Linked DNA regions of Homo sapiens: regions 1 and 2 are each linked to region 3. Evidence: fine-mapped expression QTL. A gene starts in region 3. Each other region holds a variant in brackets. All regions are shown on one strand. Distances are from middle to middle.

What was found.
Region 1: its variant is fine-mapped to the expression of CERS4 in whole blood (TOPMed, PIP 0.98).
Region 2: its variant is fine-mapped to the expression of CERS4 in whole blood (INTERVAL, PIP above 0.99).

What each region holds. Positions count from the first base shown.
Region 1 is chr19:8,177,200-8,185,376 of GRCh38, forward strand. No RefSeq gene overlaps it. Among named protein-coding and RNA genes, the nearest start is that of CERS4, 28 kb to the right of the region's middle. The variant A/C (reference allele first, on the strand shown) is at 3,920.
Region 2 is chr19:8,266,732-8,274,908 of GRCh38, forward strand. No RefSeq gene overlaps it. Among named protein-coding and RNA genes, the nearest start is that of CD320, 38 kb to the right of the region's middle. RefSeq lists an enhancer at 2,245-2,574. The variant CT/C (reference allele first, on the strand shown) is at 4,878.
Region 3 is chr19:8,205,538-8,213,714 of GRCh38, forward strand. CERS4 (ceramide synthase 4) reads left to right here and starts at 3,833. Exons shown (of 12, transcript NM_024552.3): 1 at 3,833-3,957; 2 at 5,169-5,325. RefSeq lists a silencer at 3,514-4,433.

The sequences.
Region 1 (8,177 bases), 28 kb before region 3:
GACCCGAGATCACGCCACTGCACTCCAGCCTGGGCAACAGAGCGAGACTCCATCTCAAAAAAAAAAAAAAAAAAAAAGGTAACAACCTAGGCAGGGTGCGGTGGCTCATGCCTATAATTTCAGAACTTTGGGAGGCTGAGGCAGGCAGATCACGAGGTCAGGAGATCAAGACCAGCCTGGCCAACACGGCAAAACCCCATCTCTACTAAAAATACAAAAATTAGCTGGGCGTGGTGGCACCTGCCTGTAATCCCAGCTACTCAGGAGGCTGAGGCAGGAGAATTGCTGGAACCCGGGAGGTGGAGGTTGCAGTGAGCTGAGATCGTGCCATTGCACTCCAGCCTGGGTGACAGGACAAGACTCCGTCTCAAAAAAAAAAAAAAAAAAAAAAATCTATAGTAAATGCCTTCTAAAACCGTATCTTTATCACTGCCCTATAACTCTATATAGATTCTTGGCTACTAAGCCAATAGCTGGGATGATATAAATGTAATGCAGCTGCTATCTGAATAACAAGCATGGAAAAGTGAATATGTGTGTGTGCAGATAATGCTCTACAAACATACAACTTATGACATTTTCTGTAACCATAATCAATTTCTTGTAGTTCAGTGAGTTGACCCCCTTCATGATCAGTGTTAGGGGCATGTGAAAGAGGTGATTGGTTGATTGATTGATTGATTGATTGATTTAGAGACAGAGTCTCTGTCTGTCACCCAGGCTGGAGTGCAAAGGTGTGATCTTGGCTCGCTGAAACCTCCGCCTCCTGGCTGCAAGCAATTCTGCTGCCTCAGCCTCCCGATTAGCTGGAAATACAGGCACCTGCCACCACGCCCAGCTAATTTTTGTATTTATATTGAAGACGGGATTTCACCATGTTGGCCAGGCTGGTCTCAAACTCCTGAACTCAAGTGATCCACCCACCTCGGCCTCCCAAAGTGCTGGGATTACAGGCATGAGCCACCACACCTGACCAAAGAGGTGTATTATTCTTTTGCAATTTCCTTTTAACCAGCTGGTTTTGTTATCTACTTCTGATTATGTCGCTGATACAGGCCATTTTCTGTTATCAGATCAAAAAGCAGCAAAGCCAGGCATAGTAGTGCACAACTATAGTCTCAGCTACTCAGGAGCCTGATGGGAGAATTGCTTGAGCCCAGATTGAGGCCACATTGAGCTGAGATGGCACTACCATACTCTAGCCTGGGTGACAGAGCGAGACCCTGTCTCAATTAAAAAAAGAAAAGAAAAGAAACAGGCCAGGCGCGGTGTCTCACGCCTGGAATCCCAGAACTTTAGGAGGCCGAGGCGGGTGGATCATTTGAGGTCAGGAGTTTGAGACCAGCCTGGCCAACATGGTGAAACCCTGTCTGTACTAAAAATACAAAAATTAGCCAGATATGGTGGCAGGCGCCTGTAATCCCAGCTACACAGGTTGCTGAGGCAGGAGAATCGCTTGAACCCAGGAGGCAGACAGAGGTTGCAGTGAGCCGAGATTGCGCCATTGCACTCCAGCCTAGGTGACAGAGTGAGACTCCATCTCAAAAAACAAACAAACAAAGAAAACACAAAACTTTTATGGAATTCCAGAATCCTTTCTTCCTTCACTACTTCCTCTACTTTTGCTCTATTTCAAATTATTTATTTTTGACCTCATAATTTTTTGTGTGTGGATGGGTAGGCAGAATGAATTAACAGTACAAATCTTACCTCAAAGACTAGCTATAAAATAAGAAAAAGCGCCAAGCCAGAGTTTGAACTTCCAGGTTATAATACTGATTCTGTCATCAAACAGCTTTGTGACACCAAAGGAGTTTACTAAGTTCTTTGGATTTATTTATTATTATGTTAGATGGAGTGTCACTCTATTGCCCAGGCTGGAGTGCAGTGGCACAATCTCGGCTCACTGCAACATCTGCCTCCTGGGTTCAAGCGATTCTCCTGCCTCAGCCTCCCGAGTAGCTGCGATTACAGGCATGTGCCACCTTGCCCAGCTAATTTTTGTCTTTTTAGTAGAGACGGGGTTTCACCATGTTGGCCAGGCTGGTCTCAAACTCCTGGTCTCTAGTGATTTGCCTGCCTTGGCCTCTCAGAGTACTGAGATTACAGACGTGAGCCACTGTGCCCAGCTGGAAATGGATTTTAAATCTCTGAGATGTGAAAGCATTTTCTAAGCTTAAGAGCAGAGGGCAAAATGGTCAAGCAATGTACTGAGTTGTCTCTCTTTAAAACTTAAAGAGGAATTCTTAGCCAGGTGCTGTGGCTCATGCCTGTAATCCCAGCACTTTGGGAGGCCAAGGTGAGAGAATCACTTGAGCCCAGGAGTTTGAGACCAACTTGGGCAATGTAGTGAGACCACATCTCTGCAAAAAATAAAAATTAGCTGGGTATGGTCGCACATGCCTGTAATCCCACCTACTTGGGAAGCTGAGGTGGGAGGATCACTTGAACCCAGGAGGCTGAGGCTTCTGTGAGCTATGATAGTTCCACTGCACCCCAGCCTGGGCAACACAGTAAGACTCTATCTCTAAAAAAGAAAAGAGAATGAGACATCTTTTGTCTATTTTAATCTAACCTTTTTTTTTTTTTCCTGAAGACTCTTACCCCAGCTTGCAGCTTTTTTTTTTTTTTTTTTTTTTTTGACAGAGTTTTGCTTTGTCGTCCAGGCTGGAGTGCAGTGGCGTAATTTCGGCTCACTGCAACCTCTGCCTCCCAGGTTCAAGTGATTCTCCTGTCTCAGCCTCCCTAGTAGCCAGGATTACAGACACACACCACCATGCCCAGCTCATTTTTGTATTTTTAGTAGAGATGGGGTTTTGCCATGTTGGCCAGGCTGGTCTCAAACTCCTGGCCTCAGGTGATCCACCCTCCTCAGCCTCCCAAAGTGCTGGGATTACAGGCATGAGCGACTGTGCCCGGCCAGCTTGCTGCTTTTAGCATAAATTTCAGGCTTCTGGTGAGCTCTTGGCAACATGTACCAAGAATCATAACGTGTTTGCCTTTTTCCAGCCAGTATTTCCACTGCTGGGAATCCATGAGAAAGAAATATGAGAAATAGGCAAATATTTACATATAACAATGCTTCTGTTATTGTTATTTTAATATTCAGTTAGTGCAAAGCCTGAGGTATCCGGTACGCTGTGTACAATCACGTGATAAGATCCAATATGCAGTTATGAAAAATGTTTGTAGATTTTCTTTAACAATATGTAAAATATTTTCATACTATTTTTACAGAAAAAAGCAGGATATTGGGAGGCCAAAGCAGGCGGATCACTTGAGGCAAGGTGTCCAAGGCCAGCCTGGCCAACATGGTGAAACCCCATATCTACTAAAAATACAAAAAATTAGCAGAGTGTGGTGGCACAAGCCTGTAATCCCAGCTATTTGGGAGGCTGAGGCAGGAGAATTGCTTGAACCTGGGAGGCAGAGGTTGCAGTGAGCCGAGATGGCACCATTGCACTCCAGCCTGGGTGACAGAGTGAGACTCCATCTCAAAAAAAAAAAAAAAAGAAAGAAAAAGAAAAATGCAGGATATAGGATAAAACATTTTTTTCTAGATGTTGCCGTAATTAAAAATTTTGTTGCCTATATGGCCAGGAGTGGTGGCTCACGCCTGTAATCCCAGCACTTTGCGAGCCGAGGTGGGTGGATCACTTGAGGCCAGGAGTTCGAGATCAGCCTGGGCAACATGGTGAAACCCCATCTCTACTAAAAATACAAAAATTAGCCGGGCGTGGTGGTGCATGCCTGTAATGCCAGCTACTCGGGAGGGTGAGGCATGAGAAGTGCTTGAGTCCGGGAAGTGGAGGTTGCAATAAGCTGAGATTACACCGCTGTGCTCCACCCTGGGTGACAAAGCAAGACTGACTCAAAAAAAAAAAAAAAAAAAAAAGATGTTTCCTATATAGCAACAGGA[A/C]ATCTCACTCTTTGCTGAGAGAAATGCCAAACAGTACAGCCACTCTAGAAGACAGTGTGACAGCTTCTTACAAAACTAAACATACTCTTACCATATAACCAATTAATTTCACTCCTAGATATTTACCCAAACGAGTTGAAAGCTCATGTCTACAAGAAAACCCGCACATGGGCCAGGTGCAGTGGCTCATACCCGTAATCCCAACACTTTGGGAGACCGAGGCGGGCAGATCACGAGGTCAGGAGTTCAAGACCAGCCTGGCCAATATGGTGAAACCCTGTCTCTACTAAAAATACAAAAATTAGCTGCGCGTGGTGGCATGTGCCTGTAGTCCCAGCTACTCAGGAGGCTGAGGCAGGAGAATCACTTGAACCCGTGAGGCAGAGGTTGCAGTGAGCCGAGATCACACCACTGCACTCCAGCCTGGGCGACACAGGGAGACTCCGACTCAAAAAAAAAAAAACAAACTGGCCGGGTGCGGTGGCTCATGCCTGTAATCCCAGCACTTTGGGAGGCCGAGGCGGGAGGATCACGAAGTCAGGAGATCGAGACCATCCTGGCTAACACGGTGAAACCCTGTCTCTACTAAATATACAAAAAATTAGCCGGGCATGGTGGCAGGTGCCTGTAGTACCAGCTACTCGGGAGGCTGAGGCAGGAGAATGGCGTGAACCCAGGAGGCAGAGCTTGCAGTGAGCCGAGATGGCGCCACTGCACTCCAGCCTGGGCGAGAGAGTGAGACTCTGTCTCAAAACCAAAAAAACAAAACAAAACAAAACCTGCACACGGATGTTTACAGCAGTATTATTCATAATTGCATAAAACTTGGAAGCAACCAAGATGCCCTTCGGGAGTTGAATGAATAAATAAACAGTGGTACTTTCAGACAATGGGAACTCATTAATTAAAATAAATGAGCTCTTGCTGGGCACAGTGGCACAAGCCTGTGGTCCCAGATACTCAGGAGGCTGAAGTGGAAGGATTGCTTGAGCCTAGGAGTTCCAGGTCAGACTGGGGGACAGAGAAAGACCATGTCTCTAAATAAATTAATTTAAATTACAATATATTTTTTCTTTTCTTTTCTTCTAACACAGAATCTCACTCTTGTCACCCAGGCTGGAGTGCAGTAGTGCTATCTTAGCTCAGTGCAGCCTCCGCTTCCCAGGTTCAAGCAATTCTGCCTCAGCCTCCTGAGTAGCTGGGACTACAAGTGCGTGCCACCACGCCCGGCTAATTTTTGAATTTTTAGTAGAAACAGGGTTCCAACAAGTTTGCCAGGCTGGTCTCGAACTCCTGACCTCAAGTGATCTGCCCACCTTGGCCTCCCAAAGTGCTGGAATTACAGGTGTAAGCCACTGTGACCAGCCTAAAAAAATTTTTTAATTATCCAGGCATGATGGTGCACCTGTAATCCCAGCTACTCAGGGAGGCTGAGGCAGGGGGATGGCTTGAGCTGGAGAGGTCGACACTGCAGTGAACTGTGATGGTGCCACTGCACTCCAGCCTGGATGACAGAGAAAGAGCCTGGCTAAAAAAACATATAACTAGCCGAGCAAAACTCCTTCTCAAAAAAAAAAAAAAAAAAAAAGTGAGCCCTAATGTAGGCTGTGGACTCGGGGTGATGAGGACGGGTCCCTGGAGATTCATCAAGTATAACCAATGCACCACTCTAGTGGCGGACATTGATAAGGAGGAGGCTGGGCTTGGGGAGCAGGGTAGATATATGGGAAATCTCTGTACTTTCCACTCAATTTTGCTGCAAACCTGAACTGCTATAAATCAGAACGTTTATGGGCTGGGTGCAGTGGTTCACGCCTGTCATCCCAGCACTTTGGGAGGCCAAGGCAGGAGGATCGCTTGAGCCCAGGAGTTTGAGACCACCCTGAGCAACATAGCAAGGCCCCATCTCTACAAAAAAAAAAAAAAGAAAGAAAATACAAAAATTAGCCAGGTGTGGTGGTGTGCATCTGTAGTCCCAGCTACTCGGGAGGCTGAGGCAGAAGGATGGCTTGAGCCTGGGAGGTGGAGTTGGCACTGAGCTGTGATTGCATCACTGCACTCCAGCCTCAGTGACAGAGCCAGACCTTGTCTTAAAAAAAAAAAAGCCCATGGGAAAACAAATACTGTTTTCCTCTGCTTGAGTGAAAGAAGCCAGTCTCGCTGGGCGCGGTGGCTCACGCCTGTAAGTCCCAGCACTTTGGGAGGCCGAGGTGGGCAGATCACCTGAGGTCGGGAGTTCGAGACCAGCCTGGCCAACATGGAGAAACCCCGTCTCTACTAAAAATACAAAGTTAGCTGGGCATGGTGGCGCATGCCTGTAATCCCAGCTACTCGGGAGGCTAAGGCAGGAGAATCGCTTGAACCCAGGAGGTGGAGGTTGCAGTGAGCCGAGATCGTGCCATTGCACTCCAGCCTGAGCAACAAGAATGAAACTCCATCCAAAAAAAAAAAAGAAAAGAAAGAAAGAACCCAGTCTCACAAGGCTATCCAGTGTGTGACTGATTCCATTTATACAACAGTCCCGGAAAGGCTAAATTATGGCGACAGAGAGCCGATCAGTGGTTGTCAAGGAGAAGGAAGGAAGGATGTGACTCCTAACGGGCAGTGTAAGGGAATTTTACGGGGTGATGAAGTTGTTCTTTTTCTTTCTTTCTTTCTTTCTTTTTTTTTATTTGAGACAGAGTCTCGCTCTGTCACCCAGGCTGGAGTGCAGTGGATCTCGGCTCACTGCAACCTCCATCCCCTGGGTTCAAGCAATTCTCCTGCCTCAGCCCCCCGAGGACCTGGAACCACAGGTGTGCGCCACCATGCCTGGCTAATTTTTGTATTTTTAATAGAGACGGGGTTTCACCACATTGGCCAGGCTGGTCTCAAACTCCTGACCTCAGGTGATCCACCTGCATCAGCCTCGCAAAGTTCTGGGATTACAGGCATGAGCCACCCCATCCAGCATTTTTTTTTTCTTTTTTTTTTTCTTTTTCTTTTTCTTTTTCTTTTCTTTTTTTTTTTTTCTTTTTTTTTTTTTTTTTTTTTTTTTGAGACAGTCTTGCTCTGTCGCCCAGGCTGGAGTGCAGTAGTGTGATCTCAGCTCACTGCAACCTCTGCCTCCCAGATTCAAGTGATTCTTATGCCTCAGCCTCCCAAGTAGCTGGTATTACAGGCATGCGCCACCATACCTAGGTCATTTTTGTATTTTTGATAGAGATGGGGTTTCCCCACGTTGGCCGGGCTGCTCTTGAAATCCTGACCTTATGTGATCCGCTGGACTCGGCCTCTCAAAGTGCTGGCGTTACAGGCATGAGCCACAGCGCCCAGCCAGATTTTAATTTTTTTTTTTATAGATAGGGTCTCACTACATTGCCCAGGCTGGACTCCAACTCCTAGGTTCAAGCAATGCCGCCTCGGCCTCCCAAAGTGCTGGGATTACAGGTATGAGGTGCTGCATCCAGCCTAAAAAATTGATTTAATGCAAAAAAAAAAAAGAAAATCCTGGTGCCTGACCCCTGGCTGTCCTCAGCTGGCCCATAAGACCCTGATGACTTTTGAGCTCTGAATCAAGGGTTGGCATATCTAGACCTGCTGCAAGCTACAGATACTCAGAACCATGCACGAGGTTGCAAATCCTACATATGATTTCCAGAATCCACATCCCATCTGCACTCTTTCTGGTAGAGCACACCTTGTTCCTGGGGCTCCAGGACAAATGGGTGCATCAAAGCTAACTTCCGGCCCTGGGCAGTGGCTCACGCCTGTAATCCCAGCACTTTGGGAGGACGAGGCAAGAGGATCACCTGAGGTCAGGAGTTCAAGACCAGCCTGGCCAACAAGGTGAAACCCCATCTCTACTAAAAATACAAAAATTAGCTGGATACGGTGGCCCATGCCTGTAATTCCAGCTACTCAGGAGGCTGAGGCAAAAGAATCGCTTGAACCTGGGAGGCGGAGGTTGCAGTAAGCTGAGCTCATGCCACTGCACTCTAGCCTTGGAGACAAAGTGAGATTCTGGCAAAAGAAAAGAAAAGAAAAAAAGCTACCTTCCACCAGCCACAATGGCTCACGCCTGTAATCCCAACATTTTGGGAGCCCAGGAGTTTGAGACCAGCCTGCAGCCTGGGCAACATAGCAGGAAACTCTCTCTAAAAAGGAAGAAAAGAAAAATTCGCCAGGCATGGTGGCGCACACCTGTAGTCCCAGCTACTTGGAAGGCTGAGGTGGGAAGCTGGCTTGAGCCTGGGAAATTGAGGCTGCAGTGAGCTAT
Region 2 (8,177 bases), 61 kb after region 3:
TGGTGAAACCCCGTCTCTACTAAAAATACAAAAATTAGCTGGGTGTGGTGGCACATGCCTGTAATCCCAGCTACTCGGGAGGCTGAGACATGCCAGCACTCCAGCCTGGCAACAGAGTGAGATTTTGTCTCCAAAAAAAAAAAAAAAAAAAAAAAGATGAATAGCAAAAATATAAAAATATTACATGTCAATGTTTGTGGAGTGTAGCTTAAGCAATCCTTTGGAGGAAGTTTGCAGCCTAACAGGCTTATATTAGAAACGAAAAAAAAAAAAAAGCAGCCTGGCGTGGTGGCTCACACCTGTAATCCCAGCACTCTGGGAGGCCAAGGGGGGTGGATCATGAGGTCAGGAGTTTGAGATCAGTCTGACCAACATGGTGAAACCCCGTCTCTACTAAAGATACAAAAAAAAAAAAAAAAATTAGCCAGCAGTGGTGGCACGTGCCTGTAATCCCAGCTACTCAGGAGGCTGAGGCAGGAGAATCGCTTGAACCCAGGAGGCAGAAGTTTCAATGAGCCAAGATTGTGCCATTGTACTCCAGCCTGGGCAACAGGGTGAGACTCAAAAAAAAAAAAAAAAAAAAAAAAAAAAGAAAAAGCTCAAAAATAATTAGCTAAGCATTTAAGAAGATTTTAAAGAACAGTAAAATAAGCTCAATAAAAGAAAAAACAGGATAAGTGTTAAAATTAGGATCATCAAACCTAAAAGTTAGTTATTTGAATGACTAACAGACGAACATCTGGCAAGATTAATAAAGAAAAATAAAAGAAGTCACAGAAAAAAATATAGAGACAGGCCAGGTGCGGTGGCTCATACCTGTAATCCCAGCACTTCTGGAGACCAAGGGAGAGGATCACTTGAGCCCAGGAGTTCAAGATCAGCCTGGCAACATGGCAAGACCCCCATCTCTGCACAAAATTTAAAAATCAGGCATGGTGGTATGTGCCTGTAGTCCCAGCTACTCAGGAGCTCAAGGCAGGAGGACCACTTGAACCAGGAGTTCAAGGCTGCAGTGAGCCGTGATCTTGCCACTGCACTCCAACCTGAGGAATAGTGGAAGGCCCCAACACTAAAAAACAAAAATAAAGCATCATACATGTCAAATGTTATATTTAATGTCATATTTAATTGTTGGGTACATAACCCTTAAGGTAAGAAATAAGACAATAGCTGCTATCGCCACCCTTATTCAAAATTATTCTGGGAGTTCTAGTTAACAATAAATCAAAAAAGGCCGGGCGCGGTGGCTCACGCCTGTTAATCCCAGCACTTTGGGAGGCCGAGGCAGGCAGATCACCTGAGGTCGGGAGTTCGAGACCAGCCTGACCAACATGGAGACACCCCATCTCTACTAAAAATACAAAAAAATTAGCCGGGTGTGGTGGCGCATGCCTGTAATCCCAGCTACTTGGGAGGCTGAGGCAGGAGAATCACTTGAACCTGGGTGGCGGAGGTTGCAGTGAGGCGAGGTCACGCCATTGCATTCCAGCCCAGGCAACAAGAGTGAAATTCCGCCAATTAAAAAAAAAAAAACCGTAAAACAAAAAAAGATATCAGTAGGAGAAATAAAGAGAATAAAACTGCCCATTATTAGTCTATGACATATCTATATCAAAAACCCAGGATGTAGAAGGCAGCACAAGATAACAGAATAGAAGGCTCCACCAACCATCCCTCCAACAAGGACACCAATTTAACAGCTACACACAAAAAAGCACTTTCCCAAGAACCAAAAATCCCAGCCGGGAGCAGTGGCTCATGCCTGTAGTTCCAGCTACTCAGGAGGCTGAGGCAGGAGAATCACTTGAACCCGGGAGGCAGAGGTTGCAGTGAGCCGAGATCGCGCCACTGCACTCCAGCCTGGGCGACAGAGCAAGACTCTGTCTCCGAAAAAAAAAAAAAAAAAAAAAAAAAAAAAAAAAAAAAAAAAAAAAAAAAAAAAGAAGAACCAAAAATCAGGTGAGCACTCACAGTACCCGGTTTTAACTTTATATCACTGAAAGACACACTGAAGAAACACACTGAAAGTCCTGAATCTCTGACACCACCTCTCCGCCACCCCTGGCAGCATGGTGTGGAGAGTGCCTTTGTGTGTTGGGGAGAGGGAGGGGGCAGCAATTGTGAGGCATGGAACCCAGCGCTGTCCTTTTAGAGCAGAAAGAAAAACCCGACCACACTCAGCTGATGCCCACCCATAGAGGGTGTGGGCGGCAAGCCACCCAGGTGCCGAGGCAAGAGACTGAGGGCACAAGTTGTTCCAGTAAAATAAAAAATATATATAAAATAAAAATAGTTACACCAGAAGACAAGAGTGCGAGCCCTCTGTTATGCCCGGACAGGGCCACTAGAGGGCTCCATGGTCTAGCGGTAATGCCGGCGCCTGGGAAGGCACCCGTTACTTAGCAGACCGGGAAAGGGAGTCTCCCTTTCCTTGGGGGAGTTAGAGAAGACTCTGCTCCACCACCTCTTGTGGAAGGCCTGACATCAGTCAAGCCCCCACCATCCCCACCTGCCAACAGCCATCCAGAGGCCTAACAGTCTAGCCTCTGTCATGCTGTGCTTCAGCGGTCACGCTCCTGTTTCACTTTCATGTTCCACCCTGTACACCTGGCTCTGCCTTCTAGAAAACAGTAGCAGAATTAAGTGAAAGTATTAAGCCGTTGACCTCTCCAAGAAATAATGACATAAGCTGTCCCCTCTCTCTGCCTCGGCTACCAAACAGGGAAGGGCCCCCTGTCCAGTAGACACATGACTCACGTGACCTTACCTATCACTGGAGATGGCTCAACACTCCTTACCCTGCCCCCTTGCCTTATATCCAAAAAATAACAGTGCAGCCAGGCATTCAGGGCCACTACCGGTCTCTGCGTCTTGGTGGTAGTGGTCCTCCAGGCCCCAGCTGTCTTTCCTTCTCTTTGCCTTGTGTCTTTATTTCTACGATCTCTCATCTCCACACACGAGGAGAAAAACCCACAGGCCCTGTAGGGCTGGTCCCTATAGAGGGGGCATTTAAACCAGCCCTAACAAGAGGGAAATTATGGATCCCAGTGGAATTTGAGTTCCTGCAAACTTTGCGACCCACCATGGGCTAAAGTGCTCTGGGTCTCTAAGTAAATTTGAAAGTCAGTCTAGGCTATCAGTGCAACTCCTAGGCAAGTCCTAGTGAGGTAGAAGATAAGATTTGACTTCAGAGGTGGGGCTCAGACACCAGACCATATTGAGGACTAGCTAAAACAGGTGAAGGAAAAGGGAGGGGGAAGCAGCTTTCGATGAGACATGCCTGCCAGTGTGCCGTGTCAATTTCACATTACCATGCTAACATCAAGGAATTACTGCCCCTTTCCAGGCAATGCCCCAATGATTAGTACCCCCTTCCCTAAAAGTTTCTACATAAACTGCCCCTTAATCTGCATGCGATTAAAAGTGGGTATATGCCAGGCACAGTGGCTCACGCCAGTAATCTCAGCACTTTGGGAGGCTAAGGCAGGTGGATCGCTTCAGCCCAGGAGTTCAAGACCAGCCTGGCCAACATGTCAAGACCCCATCTCTGCTAAAAATACAAAAACTGGCGGGGCAGGGTGGCTCATGCCTGTAATTCCAGCACTTTGGGAGGTTGAGGAGGACAGATCACAAGCTCAAGAGATCGAGACCACCCTGGCTAATGCAGTGAAACCCCGTGTATACTAAAAAATACAAAAAATTAGCCAGGCCTGATGGTGGGCACCTGTAGTCCCAGCTACTCAGGACGCTGAGGCAGGAGAATGGTGTGAACCCAGGAGGTGGAGCTTGCAGTGAGCCAAGATCGTGCCACTGCACTCCAGCCTGAGCGACAGAGTGAGACTCCATCTGAAAAAATTAGCCAGGCCTGCTGGTGCCCGCCTGTAGTCCCACCTACTTGGGAGGCTGAGGCAGAAAAATCACTGGAACCCAGGAGGCGGAGGTTGCAGTAAGCTGTGATCACGCCATTGCACTCCAGTCTGGGCAACATGAGCGAAACTCCGTCTCAAAACTAAAAGAAAAGATGAAGATGAAAAGAATACCTTTATGGAAAAATATAAAATGCAAAACTTGCACCAAGAGGTACCAAAAAACTTTACTAAATCCATAAATATTAATGAAATGGAAATAACTTGGGGGAGGGGGCAGACAATATGGTTCATGCCTGTGATCCCAACATTTTGGGAGGCTAAGGTAGACAGATCACTTGAACCCAGGTGTTTAAGACCCATCTGGTCAACATAGCGAAACCTGGTCTCTACAAAACAATTTAAAAATTAGGCCGGGCGCGGTGGCTCACACCTGTAATCCCACCACTTTGGGAGGCCGAGGTGGGTGGATCACAAGGTCAAGAGATCGAGACCATCCTGGCTAACATGGTGAAACCCTGTCTCTACTAAAAATACAAAAAATTAGTTGGGCGTGGTGGCGGGCACCTGTAGTCCCAGCTACTCGGGAGGCTGAGGCAGGAGAATGGCCTGAACCCGGGAGGCGGAGCTTGCAGTGAGCCGAGATTGCGCTACTGCACTCCAGCCTTGGCGACAGAGGAAGACTCCATCTAAAATTTAAAAAATAAAAATAAATAAAAATTAGCTGGATATGGTGGTGTGTGCCTGTAGTCCCCACTACTCGAGAGGCTGAGGCTGAAGGATCGCTTGAACCCAGGAGGTCAAGGCTATAGTGAGTCATGATGGTGCCACTGCACTCCAGCCTGGTTGACAGAGGGAGACCCTGTTGAAAGAAAAAAATGAGAGAAAGAGAGGAAGGGAAGGGGAAGGGAAGAAACAAACTACCTTCCGCTAAAGGACAAAACCCAGAGGATTTTTCAACCAAAGTTTTTGGGGTTTTTTTTTTTTTTTTTTTTTTTAGACGGAGTCTTG[CT/C]TTTTTTTTTTTTGAGACAGCGTCTCGCTCCGTCGCCCAGGCTGGAGTGCAGCGGCGCGATCTCTGCTCACTGCAAGCTCCGCCTCCCAGGTTCACGCCATTCTCCTGCCTCAGCCTCCCGAGAAGCTGCGACTACAGGCGTCCGCCACCACGCCTGGCTAATTTTTTTCTATTTTTAGTAGAAATGGGGTTTCACCATGTTAGCCAGGATGGTCTCGATCTCCTGACCTCGTGATCTGCCCGCCTCGGCCTCCCAAAGTGCTGGGATTACAGGCGTGAGCCACCGTGCCCGGCCCCAATCAAGTTTTATCAACATTTCAAGTAACAGTTATTTCTCATCTAATTCAGGCTGATACCAAGAAGAGGGGGAGGGAAAAAAAAGAGGGAAAGGGGGAGAATATCCAATTTCTTTTATTTTTAAATTTTTTATTTTGGAGACAGGGTTTTGCTCTGTTGCCCAGGCTGGAATGCAGTGGTGTGATCACAGATCACTGCAGCTTCCAACACTTGGGCTCAAGCAATCCTCCTGCCTCAGTCTTCCCAGTAGCTAGGATGACAGGTGCACACAACCACACCCAGCTAATTTTTTTATTTTTGGTAGAGATTAGGCCTTGCTATGTTGTCCAGGATGATCTGAATCTCCTAGCCTCAAACCATCCTCCCACCTCGGCCTCCCAAGCACTAGGATTACATGTGTGAGTCACCAAAATGAGTACAGGGCTTCCTTTTGGGGTCATGAAAATATTCTGGCAGTAGATAGATATGGTTGCACTGCACTGTGAATGTACCAAATGCCACTGAATCATTCACTTCACAATGGTTAATTTTATGTTATATGAATTTCACTTTGATAAAAACAGATGTGGCCGGGCACAATGGCTCATGCCTGTAATCCCAGCACTTGAGAGGCCAAGGCCAGTCGATCACCTGAGGTCAGGAGTTCGAGACCAGCCTAACCAATATGGTGAAACCCCATCTCGAATCTCTACTAAAAATACAAAAATTAGCCAGGCATGGTAGCATGCACCTGTTGTCCCAGCTACAGGAGGCTGAGACAGAAGAATTGCTTGAACCTGGGAGGTGGAGGTTGCAGTGAGCCAAGATCACACCACTGCACTCCAGCACTCCAGGTTGGATGACCGAGCACAACTCCATCTCAAAAAAAAAAAAAAAAAAAAAAAAAAAAAAAGAGGAGGCCAGGCACTGTGGCTAAATTCTATCATCCCAGCCCTTTGGGAGGCCAAGGCAGGTGGATGACTTGAGGCTAGGAGCTTGAGACCAGCCTGGGCAACATAATGAGACCCCATCTCACAAACAAAAAAGATTTCTTGGCCAGGAATGGTGGCTGACGCCTGTAACCCCAGCACTTTTGAGAGTCTGAGGCAGGTGGATCACAAGGTCAGGAGTTCAAGACCAGCCTAGCAAACATAGTGAAAACCCCATCTCTACTAAAGATACAAAAAATTAGCTGGGCGTGGTGGCACGTGCCTGTAATGCCAGCTACTCGGGAGGCTAAGGCAGGAGAATCACTCTAACTCAGGAGGCAGAAGTTGCAGTGAGCTGAGATCACAGCACCACTGCACTCCAGCCTAGGCAACAGAGCGAGACTCTGTCTCAAAAACAAAAAACAAGAACAAAAACAAACAACAGTTCTAGAGATGGGTGGTGGTGATGAGTGCACAACATTGTAAAAATACTGAATACCTTTGAAGCCCACTTTAAAATTGTTAAAGTGGTCAATTTTATGTTATTTTTAGGTATAATACTTACGTACTTTTTGTATTTTTTTCTATTATGTATTGATATGTATATTTAACAGTAGAAAAAAAATGATGGTCACTCGATCGGAAACAGAAAAGGTTAAAGCAAAAGTAAAATGCATGAAAACCAGGGAGAACTGCCAGATAAGCACATGGTCAGTGACCCTGGATTAGCCCGAGGCTGACTGGGTGTTGGACATGGGGAACGACCACCACCTAGGGGCAACTTGCCATCTGCCGCTATGTTCTTTCTGGGACTTGGAAAAACATGCATTACTAGGAACTTCCCCTACTGTTATTCCCTGTTTCCCCCGCCACCCCGCCCGAGACAGAGTCTTACTCTGTCTCCTAAGCCGGAGTGCAATGGCCGATCTCGGCTCACTGCAACACCCGCTTCCCGGGTCCAAGCGATCCTCCTGTCTCAGCCTCCTGAGAAGCTGGGATTATAGGCACAGGCCACCATGCCTGGCTAATGTTTGTATTTTTAGTAAAGACGGGATTTCGCCACGTTGGTCAGGCTGGTCTCGAGCTCCTGACCTCAAGTGATCCGACAGCCTTGGCCTCCCAAAGTGCTGGGATTACAGACGTCAGCCACCGCACCCGGCCTGTTATTTCCTCTTAATACTGACATCATCCTCCTGTTTACCAATCTTTGTCACAGACCAGGTGGCATCTCTGAGAAAACAGAAATCAGCAGGAGAGACCTTCCAGAGCCACTGCCCTCCATCAACCTGCAGACCTGCATCAGGACCCAGACGCAGTGGCTCTTCCTCTTGCCCTGTGAGAATCAATTTGCCCTGGATGCAGCAAAACCACGCCCCCTTCTCCACCAACTCCTCCACCCCTTCATGGGCCTAGACAAGCACCTACCTCAACAACCTCCCCGCACCCCTGGAGCATTCCTATCAGCACACAAATAGGTTGATGCATTTTTCCCTCCTTTGTTTTTATTATTAAGGTGAAACTCACACGGCATAAAATTAACCTTTGTTTTTTTTCCTTTTTTTTTTTTTGAGACTGAGTCTCGCTGTATTGCCCAGGCTGGAGTGCAGTGGCGCGATCTCGGCTCACTGCAACCTCTGCCTCCCAGGTTCAAGCGATTCTCCTGCCTCAGCCTCTCAAGTAGCTGGGACCACAGGCTCGTGCCACGACACCTGGCCAATTATTGTATTTTTAGTAGAGACAGGGTTTTGCTATGTTGGCCAGGCTGGTCTCAAACTCCTGACCTCAAGTGATCCACCTGCTTCAGCTTCCCAAAGTGCTGGGATTACAGGTATGAGCCACCATGCCCAGCCCCTTCTTTTTTTGAGAGAGAGAGAGAGAGACACAGACAGACAGAGTCTTTGTCACCCAGGCTGGAGTGTAGTGACTCGATCTCAGCTCACCACAACCTCCACCGCCCGCCTCAGCCTCCTGAGTAGCTGGGACTACAGGCACACGCCACCATACCCTGCTAATTTTTGTATTTTTTGTACAGAAAGGGTCTTGCTATGTTGCCTAGGCTGGTCTTGAACTCCTGGCCTCAAGGGATCCTCCTGC
Region 3 (8,177 bases):
TTGACTCATGCCCATAATCCCTTGAGGGATCACTCGAGGTCAGGAGTTCAAGACCAGCCTCTCCAACATGGTGAAACCCCGTCTCTACAAAAAATACAAAAATTAGCCGGGCGTGGTGGTGTGCGCCTGTAATCCCAGCTACTCGGGAGGCCAAGGCAGGAGAATCACTTGAACCTAGGAGGCAGAGGTTGCAGTGAGCTGAGATCGTGCCACTGCACTCCAGCCTGGATGACAGAGTGAGACTCCATCTCAAAATAAATCAGTAAGTCCATTGGTGCCTCTCCCTGGAGAGAACCCAGGAGGGCTTATTGTGGCTGGGCCAGCCCTGCTGTCCTCCCAGGAAACTTCCTCTCAGTATAGTTCCCCCACCCGCTCATTTCTCAGGGCTCAGATGTCACCTCTTCCAGGAAGCCTGCCTTGAACACCCACTCACTCTCAAGCTTGGGGTCCGGCCTGAGCTCCATGGTCAGGGATCGGGGTGGAAGGTGAGGACAGGCGAGAAGCTGCCCAACTGCAGAAGGTGCAGCCTGGGTCCCTTCCTGCCTGGCTGACCCCAGGTGTCTTCCTCCAGCTTCCCAACCTTTGCCCCATGTGGTACCTTCCACCTGAAATCTCTCTCCAGCCCTGGCCTGCCCAGGTCCTCTTTTGAGCTCCCCTACTCCACTTCTCCGGAGTCCTGGGGCTTCTCCACTGGGGCGTGGACTCCACCATTCCACCATGTATCCTGTATTATATTATCGTTATTGTTTGTAGATACCGGGGTCTCACTATGTTGCCCAGGCTGGTGTCTCTTTTTTTTTTTTTTAATTGAGACAGGATCTCACTCTGTTGCCCAGGCTGGAGTTCAGTGGCATGATCATAGTTCACCTCAGCCTTGACTTCTGGGCTCAAGTGATCCTCCCACTTCAGCCTTCTGAGTAGCTGGGACTATAGGAGCACACCACCACGCTTGGCTAATTTTTGTATTTTTGGTAGAGATGGGGCTCTTGCCATGTTACCGAGGCTTGTCTCAAACTCCTGAGCTCCAGCAATCCACTCACCTCAGCCTTCCAAAGTGCTAGGATTACAGGTGTGAGCGACCAAGCCCGGTCATATATTATTATTAATACAAACAAATGCCATGCTCTGAGCACCCTGGAGTATGCGACATGTGATATTCAATAACTCCCTAGTCACAACAACTGAGAAGAGTTGCTTTATTATCTTTCTTTTCCAGGTGTGCAAACAAGCTCTTGGAGGGAAGGAGAGGAGAAAATAAACAGGTGAATATGGTGGGGGTGGGGTAAAGCAGGCAATGGAGGAAGGAGGAGGGGACTGAGGCTCAGGGAGAAGTATGTATGCATTTGAAAAGGGAAAGAGGCTGGGGCACAGTGGCTCTTGCCTGTAATCCCAGCACCTTGGAAAGCGGAGGCGGAAGGATCACTTGAGCCTAAGCGTTCCAGACCAGCCTGGGCAACATAGCAAGACCCCACCTCTACCAAAGTTTTTTTTTTTGTTTTTTTTAATTGAGACAGAGTCTTGCTCTGTCACCCAGGCTGGAGTGCAGCGGCACGATTTTGACTCACTGCAACCTCCGCCTCCTGGGTTCAAGTGATTCTCCTGCCTCAGACTCTCGAGTAGCTGGGATTACAGGTGCGCAACACCATGCCCAGCTAACTTTGGTATTTTTAGTAGAGAAGGGGTTTCGCCATATTGGCCAGGCTGGTCTCGAACTCCTGACCTCACGTGATCCACCTGCCTCGGCCTCCCAAAGTGCTGGGATTACAGGCATGAGCCACCACACCCTGCCTACCAAAGTTTTTTTATTTAAAACAAAAAAAAATTAGCCGGGCATGGTGGCAGGCATCTATAGTCCTAGCTCCTCTGGAGGCTGAGGTGAGAGGACTGCTTGAGCCCTGGAGTCCCAGGCTGCAATGAGCTGGGATCATGACATTCCATTCTAGCCTGGGCAACAGAGTGAGACTCCCATCTTTAACGAAATTTTTTTTGATAGAGTCTCACTCTGTTGTCCAGGCTGGAGTGCAGTGGCACGATCTCCACGCACTGCAACCTCTGCCTCCTGGGTTCACGTAATTCTACTCCAGGCTAATTTTTGTGTTTTTAGTAGAGATGGGATTTTGCCACGTTGGCCAGGCTGGTCTCAAACTCCTGACCTCAGGTGATCCACCCGCCTCAGCCTCCCAAAGTGCTGGGATTACAGGTGTGAGCCACCGCACCCAGCCTCTAACAGATTTTTTTAAAAAAAGAAAAGAGAAGGTCGGGCATGCTGGCTCACGCCTGTAATCCCAGCACTTTGGGAAGCCAAGGCTGGTGGATCACGAGGTCAGGAGTTTGAGATCAGTCTGGCCAACATTGTGAAACCCCCGTCTCTCCAAAAAAAAAAATATATATATATATAAATTAGCCGGGTGTTGTGGGCGCCTGTAATCCTAGCTACTCGGGAGGCTGAGGCAGGAGAATCGAATGAAACCAGGATGCAGAAGTTGCAGTGAGCCGAGATCATGCCATTGCAGTCCAGCCCGGGCCACAATGCAAGACTCCGTCTCAAAAAAAAAAAAAGAAAAAGAAAAAAGAAAAGAGAAACAGTGTAGCAGAGGGAAGGCCAAGTGCAAACGCCAGGAGTCTGAACTTGGAGGGACAGGTTCTTCCACACTTGCAACAGAGGTCTCCTGCCTCCCTGACCGCCCCGCCCCCCGCGCCCCTGTCTGTGTGAGGAAATCAAATCTCAGCTTGCCTAGGGCCCTGTGGCAGGGAGGCCCCAACTTCACCCCATGGGTCTTGGGTCTGCTGAGCTGAGTCAGAGAAAGGTTTATTATCCCCATTTTACAGAGGCTTATTGTCCAAAGGCGAAGCCACTTGCCCAGAGTACATGCGGTGGGCCAGCGACTATGAAAACCCCTGGGGCTGTCCTCTGTTCAGGGATCGCCCAGGCTCCCTGCCCCTGCGCGCTGCTGAGACTGGGTCATTTTCGGTTCTACCAGGCAAGCGGGGGACCCAGCCCCCACTGCTGCTGCCCTCAGCCAAAACCAGGGCTGCGCCACCACCCACCCGGCCTATCTCCCATCTTATCTCCCCAGCTCTGTCGCCTGACCCCTGCACCCCACCAAATCGCAGCCTTTGCCCGGTGCCCTCACCGCCTCGGTTGGCCCCCGCGCGCGCCTCGGGCGAACCCCTGGACTGGCCCTCCAACAGGGCCCCAGACTCGGGGTACCCAGGGTGGCCGCTGAGGCCTGGAGAAATCTGGGCCTCCCCTGTGCACCATCCAACTGCGCGCCCCAGAGGCTCAGGGCGCCCCGGGAGTGTGGGGGTGTGGACAGATGAGCAGAGCCAGAGCATCTCGGGCAGAAGAGGGGACCTGGGAGGGGGCCGGGGAGACAGACAGCGAACAGGGGTGAAGCCGGGGCCGGACGGAGCGCGCAGCGGACAATACTGGGTTCAAAGGGGAGAGATAAGGCGCAGACTAGAAACGCTAGGCTGGACCCGGGCCAGGCGCGCCGCGGGGCAGAGATGGGCGGAGCGGGAACGGGGGCGGGGGCGAGAATGGGGGGGCGGGGACGGGGGCGGGGATGGGGTGCGGGTGCGGGGTCGGGGGCCAGGGAGAGGCCTAGTTGCGTCGAGGGGGGCAAGCGCCTGGAGGACCCGGCGCCCGCTCCAGGCCCTGCCCCTCCAAGTCCCCCGCCCCGCGCCAGGCCCCGCCTCTCCAGGGCCCCAGCCCCGCGCCAGGCCCCACCGTTCCGGGGCGCGTGCCCCGCCCAGGCCCCGCCCCCACGGCCCCGCCCCGGGCTCCCCCCACTCAAGCCTTTTTTCCCCTGCTGGGGGCCGAGGCCCGGCCAGGAGCAGAGTCCGGCTGCCTGGGGCGGGCGGCGCGTGTCTGCAGCTGCTCCGGGTAGCCCGCTAGGCGCGCCGTCCCCAGCCCCGCCGCCGGCCCTCGGTGCGCCCGGCCGCCTGCACCCCCAGGTAAGCGAGCACCCCGCGCCGCGAACACCGCCCCGAACGCCACCCTCACGGCGGTCCCCGGCCCCGCCTCCGCGGCCATGGCGGCCCCAGCCCGGCCCCCACTCGCAGCTGGGCTCCAGCCCCCATCACCCCGCCGGGGACTGTCCCCCTCGGGGCTTCCCATCATGGCCGTCTCCCCGAGCTATCCGCGCTCCCCCACGAGGGCCGGGGCGCAACGGGTGCCCGAGGACGCGGCTGTGAAACGGGCTGGAGCGAGTAGGGGCGATCCTGGCCTCGTGACGCGGGGGAATCCGGATGTGTGAGCCGGGGGAGCGCCCCGTTTCCCCGACGTGCCAGGGCTGGGGACGCAGCTGGGGCCCTGGCCTCGGAGTCCGCAGCCCGGCCGCGTAGACGGCTTCTGAGAACCGCTTAAACACGTCATTCCAAGCCCGAGCTAACCCATCAGGCGGCCGGGGTGAGGTGGAGGTGCCCAGGCGGGGATAATGTCATTTGGCCTGGTTGGACCAGCCAGCGAGGGCTTTTTAGGCCCAGGGCCTAGCCGGGAGTGTGTGCGGAGCAGAAAAGAGGCCAGCCTGGCTGAAACGCGGAGAGGGAGGGTCTGAGGTGGAGAGAGGTTGGCCGGGGCCTGGGAAGCGGCGAGGAGAGTGTGGAACCCGTTCTCGGGGCGGTGGGGACCAGGGAGGCTTGGAACAGCAGGTGCATGGCGTGATCGGATTGTGTCTTAAGAACATCCCGTAGCCGCTGTGGGTAGGAGAGATGGGGATACTTGGAAGGGGGCTTCTGGCTTGACCTGGCTGGAAGGTGTGATAGGAAGTGGGTGAACTGAAAATTCGCTTTGGCAGAGTAACATCGTCTAATTCTGTCTGTTTGCAAGTGGAGCGTGGGGGACCGATGTTTCTCCTGGGTAGTTAGGAGTATATAGAAGAGGCTTTCATTGCTGGGTTGGGAGACTTGAGGAGAAGCTGCTCTGGGGGACACAGGAAGGTGGGCAGGGGGAGAGGCTGTTGTGGTTTGCAAAACCTACCAGATGGGGGAATGCTCCCATCGACTCCAGTCTGAGCTCAGGCAAGGTCTCAGGCATCTGAGCGCAGAGGCCAGGGTGACCCCACTGGGGCGACCTGGGTCTGTTATATGGGGATAGGGTTCCTGGACTGTGGAATTGTCTTTGAAGCCCTCGGCCTCCCCCAGCCTCAAATGGGTCTGCCTTCCAGGAGCAGCTGCTGTGAATAAACACAGAAGTGGAGCTGGGGGACTGATTAGAAGCCTCATTCAGTGCACCTGGGCCCCAGCAGGCCCAGCCAGGCGTGGAGGAAGAGGCATTGAGGACTTTCCTTACCTGTTTTTCCAGCTCACCCACTGCCAGCAGAGGTACTTTGAGCCTGGGGTGTGGGGGGTGGGGGGCGGCCTTGGTCGTTGAACTGGCTGTAGGGCCCCCAGGGAAAGGTTTCTGAGCTTCAGTTTACCCATCTGTAAAATGGGTCAGTAGTATCTGAGCCTGGGAGTGTTCATGGATCGATGAAAGCCGAGGCTAGGCAGATCTCGGTGGCAGCCACACCCCTAAGGAACCGGAGAGGGTTCTAACGCCCGGTGGGAGTTCAGGGGGATGTATGGGCTTCCATTTCTCCTCTGAGAAATTCACAACAGTGTCCACCTCCTGACCCAGGGCTGTCTGCAGGTTGAATAAAGCGGTTGACCCAGTGCGTGGCACAGAATGTCTTGGCTCAGGAGCCACTGGGATGCCTGTAGTTGGCAGCAGAAGTGGGCCCAGGTTCCCTCCTCCCACCCGTGGGATGGCACAGAAAGGCAGGTGCCTTGGGAGCTCGCTGCCCTGTCCCCTTCTCTGAGCACCACAAGCTTCTCCCTTTCCGACTGGCTGGGCTTGAGCCTGACCACCCCCCAGCCCTGTCCTGCCACTTTGAGTTGAGGGCCTCCGGGCTACTGACTTCACCACTTCCTGCTTCAGTTTCTCCACCTGTAAAATGGGATAATAGCAGTCATGACCTATAGGTAAAGAGCTGAACACAGTGCCTGGCTGGTTGTGAATACGTGCTAAACAGGCTATTAAAATATCACGAGAATATCACAGAGCTGGAGGCTATTAAAATATCACGGAGGGGCTGGGCGTGGTGGCTCACGCCTGTAATCCCAGCACTTTGGGAAGCTGAGGCAGGCAGATCACCTAAGGTCAGGAGTTCGAGAGCAGCCTGGCCAACATGGTGAAACCCCATCTCTACTAGAAATACAAAAATTAGCCGGGCGTGGTGGCATGTACCTGTAATCTCAGCTGCATGGGAGACTGAGGCAGGAGAATCTCTTGAACCTGGGAGGCAGAATTTGCAGTGAGCCGAGATCGCGCCACTGCACTCCAGCCTGGGCAACAAAGTGAGACTATCTCCAAAAAAAAAAAAAAAAAAAAAAATTCAGAGTCATGCCTGGGGTCAGGGGGAGTCCAGAGGAGTCACCTGACTCAGCCTAAGGAGGAGTCAGGGAAGGCCTCCTGGAGGAGGTGACAGTTGGCTGGGTCGCTAAGGGTAAGGAGGAGTTAACCAGGCCAAGAGACCAGTGGGCAAATTGCAGAGGAGAGAAACTGCCAGGGTGCTTGGATGAAACAACCACAAAGCCAGGGTTGTAAGATCCAGAAGAGGGGAGAGGAAGAAGGGCAGAGCCAGCCTGCCAGCCTTGAACAAGCATTTGGCATTATTTAGAGCTCAGGGAACAGACTGCAGGGGTCGAAGGCAGGAGCCTGGAGACCAGGATGGAAGGGACTGCACCAGGCCAGGGGAGTAATGGTGGGGCTGGACCAGGTGAAGGCGTGGACGGGTGAGACTTGGGTGGATCTTGGAGAGATATGGAGAGGCCGGGGGAGGGAGCAGCTGCTCATGGGGGAGAAGCTTTAGGTGTAAGTCAGCAATCTGTTCTCAGCATCTGGAAATTGCCATGCTGCTAGACACCCAGGTGGTACGGCGTAGGATGGGCTTTAAAGCAAGCTGGGAGCTTGGGAGACAGCAGAAAGAGGGCAGAAGGAAAACCAGGAGTGGGTGGCAAGCTGGGAGCCAAGGGAGCTGGGGCTGTCATAGGAGGAAAGGGTCTTGAAACCCCTGTTTGATAATTCAGTAGCAGGCATCTTACTGTTTTTTTAATTATTATTTTTTTTATTTTTTGGAATGGAGTTTCGTTCTTGTCGCCCAGGCTGGAGTGCAATGGTGCGATCTCGGCCCACTGCAACCTCCACCTCCCGGGTTCAAGCAATTCTCCTGCCTCAGCCTCCTGAGTAGCTGGGATTACAGGTGCGAACCACCACACCTGGCTAATTTTTATATTATTAGTAGAGATGAAGGGGGGTGGGTTTCACCATGTTGGCCAGGCTGGTCTCGAACTCCTGACCTCAGGTGATGCACCTGCCTCGGCCTCCCAAAGTGCTGGGATTACAGGTGTGAGCCACTGCGCCCAGCCCGTCTCACTTTCTTTTGTGGCTGCTCTTTACCAACCCTGTTCTGTTCCCCATGCCTTTCAGTACAAGCTCTTTTCTTTGCTTTTCTTTCTTGTTTTTGTTTTGTTTTTTCAAGACAAGTTCTGGCTCTGTTGCCCAGGCTGGGGTGCAGTGGTGCGATCTTCGCCCACTGCAACCTCCACCTCCCAAGTTTAAGCAATCAGCCTGGGACTACAGGCATAAGCCACCACACCTGGCTAATTTTTGCATTTTTTTGTAGTGATTTTGTAGAGTTTTGCCAGTTGCCCAGGCTGGTCTGAAACTATTGAGCTCAAACGCCTCAGCCTCCTAAAGTACTGGGATTACAGGCATGAGCCACTGCACTCGGCCTCTTTCTTTCTTTCAAAGGCAGAATCTTGCTCTGTCGCTCAGGTTGGAGTGCAGTGGCATGATCATAACTCACTGCAGCCTCGACCTCCTGAGCTCAACCTCAGCCTCCTGAGAGCTGGGACCACAGGCATGCACCACCAGGCCTAGCTAATCCTTAAAAAAAAATTTTATACACATGGACAGGGGTCTTACTATGTTGCCCGGGCTGGTCTTGAACTCCTGGCCTCAAGCGAGCCTCCAGCCTCAACCTCCCAAAGCACTAGGATTATAGGCATGAGCCACTGTGCCTGGCCAAGCGCAGGCTTTTCTTTGCCATCCTTGAATAGGCCCCTCAGACCCATCATGGCTCTGACCAGAGTAGCATAGAGAGGCCCGGCGCGGTGGCTCACGCCTGTAATCC